Regions from separate parts of the Homo sapiens genome. Here region 1 is linked to region 2. The links come from fine-mapping of genetic effects on gene expression. A gene starts in region 2. The other region holds a variant in brackets. All regions are shown on one strand. Distances are between the middles of the regions.

Region 1 (2,908 bases), 75 kb after region 2:
ACAGAAAACCAGGGACTAAAGCAATTTGCAGGTTCCTTCCAGCTCTGAAACTTTGGGACTCTAGTTGAGTATGAGCCTAAGCAAAGCTCTCAGGATAGATGAGAAAGATGAGGCCATGACGTGTCCGCAAAACTGCCTGCACACAATAGGCAACCCCCACGCAACAATCTCCCCCTTTCTCCTTCACAGACTCGAGCCCATGCTGTTTGCTTGGTAGTTGTGATAACCTTCCTCACGGAACTGGCTGCTCCCATGGGTGAGGTTCATGGGTTTGCTAGGTGAGGGTTTCCACCTGATGCTGGAGGAAGACAAATGCCTCTCACCTGGGGGCATGCGTGGGGCATGGGAAGGGTCCCATCTCTTGCAGTGTTTTCCTATTGGGACACACTACCCAGTTCTTGGCCTAGGAATGGGGATCACAGGGGCTGAGGGTGGTCTGGGCTCCCAGGTGAGGCACCAGGCTCTGGAGGCAGGCTCTGAGGCTGGAGTGGCAAGGAATTTCTGCGAGCAAAGCCCTCCATAAGGTCTCCAGGGGCAGCTTCATGGAAAGTTGGTGCCTCTGTGGCAAAGGAGCCAGCAGGGACACTCCAGCCATTCTGGGGAGATGGGAGGAGAAGGTGTGCTCGGTGAAAGAAGTGACAGCGACTAGGCTCTGTCACCTCCCTGCTGGCCAGCCTCACCAGGGAGAAACTAAGTGTGACCTTCCACCTGCAGTGGAAACATGACTCCAATAACTGGATGCCAATTTTATAGCCTAACCCAGAGGCTACAGTTGCTATGTCTGCTCCTCTTGGGTATGATTGGCTTGTTGCTGGCTGCCCATTGCAAACTGTCTTTAATGAAAGTGCCAATCTTGTGCATCTTTTCAGTAACAAGTCAAACTACCATCAGGATTGTTGTGAAACAGAAACTAAAGTAGCCTCCCTCTAAAAACCTTGTAGCTGCATGGCCGGCTGATCTTGTTACAGAAAATTATGTCCATAAAGTGAAAAACTGAATTGTTTCAGTTGCCTTCCTCATTCCTTTCCAATCAAGAGGGCATCTTATAGAGTTTCAAAGGAAGTTCTAGAAGATATCATGGGCCTTGGTTTATGGTCTTAGATGATTTTATCCAGCTTAGACATGGTAAAAAGAGAGTATCTGAATCCATTCCATTGACTCACAGATAAGATGGCCATCAGCTTGGAACACGAGTAGATTAACTTGTGGGTAGAAGAGTCCACTTTACTGGAACTTATGTGAACAGG[C/T]AGGGTGAAAAGGAGGAGCTCCAATGAACAGGCTGAGGGAAGGCTCCTATTCCCAAAATGGTGATGTTGGAGTTGTACATTATTTCTTAGTGAGAGAATTTTTGTGCAGTGAGGGCATGCATGCAATCTTGGAATTCCAAATAGCAGAGCTGCAAGTATGGTTTTAAAAGTGATGAAATATGAAGGTATCAGTTCACTAATGGAAACATTGCAAAGGAATGAGGTAAAATAGTGCCGTCTGTTACAACATCGTGGTTTAGAATTGATTCAAAATGTTGGCTTACTGTGGTGAATTGGATTTTCTAAGGACATTACTCAATTTCAGCACACAGGAACCTCAAAGAACCTAATGGAGATGAGGATTCTTTTTGCTTGTGTGGCTTCTGAGACAGCACATCTTACTGCCTTGTGGATGTCTGTTGGTTTTCCTTCTGCTGTTTGTAATACTGATAACCAGTTTCTTTTCTGTTACAATTGACTATGGTCTATATGATTTTTTTTTTTTTTTTGAGATGGAGTTTTGCTCTTGTTGCCCAGGCTGGAGTGCAATGGCACGATCTCGGCTCACTGCAACCCCGGCCTCCCGGGTTCAGGTGATTCTCCTGCCTCAGCCTCCCGAGTAGCTGGGATTACAGGTGCCCACCACCATGCCCAGCTAATTTTTTGTATTTTTAGTAGAGATGGGGTTTCGCCATGTTGACCAGGCTGGTCTCAAACTCCTGACCTCAGGTGATCCACCCACCTAGGCTTACCAAAGTGCTGGGATTACAGGAGTGAGCCACCGTACCCAGCCATCTATTTGGTTTTATGGAGGCCTATAATCCAGATGTTGAACCAAACACTTCTGATAATGAAAGAAGATATAAAATAGGAAATTAGGCAACTATTTCAGTGTTTCATTTAAACATGTTGTTAGAAGGTCTAAACCCATTACTGCATCCTAGGCAAAAGCAGCTTACTTCTCTTTTCTTTCTTATACAAGGTTTAGAGAATTGTTCAAAGACCAATTGGGATTGCTTGGAGAAAGGGAAGGTGATGATGATCTAATTGTATTTCTCTTACATCAACGGAAAAGACAGAAGCTGATTTTACAATGACAGTTTGGCAGCTCAGTGAAATTACTCAAAGGCAATTACTGGCAATTCAGCATTCCACAGTAATTCTGGACACTGAAGAAAATTTCCAAGCACAAACTCTTTCCTGCCCAGGTGTCCCAGTACCTTTTGAGACTGCAGAATAACATGAATGACTTAGATTCTGAAAGTAGAAAATCAACAACAACTGTTAATACTAGGTGTGTTCCGAGAACTGAATGGCAGAATCTGCAGTGCAAAAGCAGAAAGGAATGATTTTTCAGAGATCCATCTTCTTCAGCAAGTTCTTCTGCATTCTTTCTAGAAACATTCTACTGCTGAGAAAGCAGGCTACTCCTCACCCATTCCTTCTTGGGCTAAAGATCTTAAGAGTTAGTTGATCATCTTGATTTGGGAAAAATAAAGTAAGGAATATTTCTATCATCGAACTCAGCATAGAATAATCTATTTGATAAATTCTTTTTGAGGTATCATTTAAAAAATATTTTAATTTGTATAATTTCAATACGTTTTTTGGGGAACAGATGGTATTTGGTTACGTGAGTAAGTTCTTCAGTGGTGATTTCT
Region 2 (2,908 bases):
GACATACAGGTTTGGGAAACTGAGATCTGAGTGAAAATCCTAGCTTTAGCACTTAAGTTATTGGGTACTTAACGTGTCTGTACCCCACTTTGCACATCTGTAAAGTGGGGCAAATGCCACTACTCCTGGGAGTTTACTTGTGGTGATTAAATAATGTAATTATACAATAGTGTATGCATTTACATCGTAGTAATGCACAATACATAGACGGTAGCTATTAGGACTGATTATAATCGTCACCGTCAGTCTTGATTTTTTAAAAAAATTTCAACATCTTTTGTCCAGTTTCAGAAACAGAAATGTACTTTCACTGCATTTTAGTTGCTAACACTGAGGCTGTGTATTTTAGCTTCTAGTGTCTCAGTTCAGCTGCTAACGAAGTTTTTCACTCATCCCTTTGTGGATACCAACCACCTACCCCAACCTGATTTACTATTTTGAAAAATCCAGCCAACAGTCTTCCTTGAAAACCAGCTATACAGATGTCTGAATCAAACTATTAACTGTCACTCAAGAAAAGGAACAACGTGAGTGATGTTCCTTCGAGGAAATAAAAAGCGTTTAATCAATTCACAGTCGTTCCCAAAATTTCCAAAACCCGCAGAATGAGCAAACGTTCAAGTTTCCACTATGAAAACAATCCGTAGCCGTCTGGTTACTGGACTCACTTCAACACTCCCCAGACGCACGAAAGAAGAAACATTCCGCGCATCTCCGCGCTTCCTTCTTCTCACACAAAGCCCCCCTGGCTGGAGGAGCAGCCCCTTCCAGCAGGGTCGGCTCGGGTCGAGCCGGGCGGGAGTCAGGGCGGCCTGCGGACCCAGGGGTCTCACCACACGTCGCCCCCGACTCCCACTGGACGAAGCCCTAGAGGCTCGGAGCTCACACCCCGCCCGGGAGCCGCCTTCCACCCCAACCTCAAACCCCGCCCCGGGTTCGGCAGCCTCTGGCACGGACCCTCTTGGGGCGGGGGTCCCCAGAACAAGGTCACGCCGTGCCCAGGGGGCGGCGGCGGGCAGCCACGGCTCTGCCAGTCCCCGCCGGCCTCGCACTCTCCGCCCCTGGCCCTCGCCCACTCACACCCCAGAGGGCAGCCCCGGACCTCGGACGACTCCGCCCGACTCCACCTCCCCGGGGAGTCCCGAGCGGGGCGGCCTCGGGCAGCCGGACACGTCCGCCCGCGCCCGGACACACGCCCCTGCCCCGCCTCCGCTCCCCGCTTGCGGTTCGCCCGGCAGCCGCCGAGCCGCGCGGCGCCACGAGAGCCCGGCCCGGGCCCCGGCGCCGCCACCTGCGCCCCCGGCCCCGCGCCATGTTTGAGAAAGAGCAGGAGCGAGCCAGAGGCCGGGTCCGGCCCGCGCGCCCCGCAGTCGCCCGCCCGCCGCGCCGCCGCTCACCCGTCGCCCCCGGGAGCAGCGCCGCCGCCGCCGCCGCCGCCGCCGCCAGCACGAGGAGGAGCAGCCGGGGACGCGGAGCAGCGACCGCCGCCTCCATGGTCCCGCCGCCACCGCCTGTGGCCCGGCCCGGCCCGGCCGCGCCGCTGCCTCACCCCAGCAAACCTCGCCTCGCCCCACCTCCCTAGCCGCCGCGGCGGCCTCGCTCCGGCCCTTTGTAACTGCTCGGAGGACGCGCGTCCATTGGCTGCCGGGCTCCCGCCGGCCCCGCCTCCCCGCCGCCGCGAGCTGCCAAGCGGGACCCAGCCGGGAGCCCCGCCTGCGGGCCCGCCAGGCAGCCAATCCGCAGCCGCGAGCGCCGGTTTCTGGCCACGCCCCACGCTCCCCGGGGGCTGGGCCGCCAGACCCCAGCCCCGGCCCGATCGGCTCCCGGCTCCGAGAGGCCGCGTGGGGGCGGGGTCTGCCAGCCCCAGCACCGCTCAGCCGCTAGCCCCGGAGGGCCGGGTAGAGCGATGGGTGTGTCTGTGTGAGTCTCTTTCGGAAAAAGGCTGTGGCCGTTCGACGCTCTTTTCTTCTAACCTCCTCTAGGCGCGGAAGATCTGGTACTGCCTCAGCCCCACCCTGACCCCATTCACAGCTCCGCATTGGCAATCCCAGCACATGCCACCCAGATCCGCTGCAGCGCCAGGCCCCTGCATCCACTTCAACTTCCCCTCTCCAAGTCCACGCATCAACTTCAGCATTCCCCCGAAGATCCCTCCTCAGTGCCCTTCACATGCGACTCACTCTCCTATTTCCTCCTGCTCCCAGCGGTCACCCCAAACCCAGCTCCCCCACCCAGTTCCAAACCCAGAAAGTCCTCAGATCCCAGCGTCAGACCCAGATCCTGAGCCCAAACACACCCCCAAATAGCCTCCCGCCTCCCTCCAGCACAGATCCAGGATGGGGATCCAAGCCGCACTCCTCTCAAACCCCTTCCCGATCCAGGTTGGAAAGGGAGGATCCCCACCCCAACCCCTCAAAGGAGGGGTTCCCCCTTCTTAGCACCCAGCTCCCGCGGGGCGGAGGGGGAGCAGTCATCATTACTTTGAGCTGTGTCTGACACTGCTGTATAATAATCCTGAGGTGTCACTAAAAACCCAAATAAACTCTACGTTTTCATTCTGAATTCCTAATTTACTGCGAGACGCTCCACCCACCTTCCCTCTGCGACGCCAAAATGAGCTCCAGATTTGTAATTCTTCCTGTCAGACTAGTCCTTTCTTCAGACACAAACACAGCCAAGGAGGCTGTTACGTAGAACAGAGAATATTTTTCCGCAGAACCTTTTAAGGAGGAAATTTTATTTTCTGTGTCATTTGAGCTTAGAATTAAATAAACCTTGATAGCAGGAATCAGAATGGTTCTGATTAATGCCAATTTGTGCACTACTTTAGAGTCACTGGGTGAGCATTTTCCCCACCTGTGAAGGCTTCCTTCCGGGAGATGAAAAGGGAAAAGGCGTGGATATTGGA

What was found. PIP is the estimated chance that this variant, and not a neighbour inherited with it, causes the effect.
Region 1: its variant is fine-mapped to the expression of TGFBR1 in tibial artery (GTEx, PIP above 0.99).

Annotation. Positions count from the first base shown.
Region 1 is chr9:99,028,774-99,031,681 of GRCh38, reverse strand. The region is part of intron 16 of COL15A1 (collagen type XV alpha 1 chain); the gene reads right to left. Among named protein-coding and RNA genes, the nearest start is that of TGFBR1, 75 kb to the left of the region's middle. The variant C/T (reference allele first, on the strand shown) is at 1,248.
Region 2 is chr9:99,103,792-99,106,699 of GRCh38, reverse strand. It overlaps TGFBR1 (transforming growth factor beta receptor 1), which reads right to left and starts at 1,587. Exons shown (of 9, transcript NM_004612.4): 1 at 1,398-1,587. The coding sequence starts at 1,494. RefSeq lists silencers at 860-1,369, 1,460-2,059.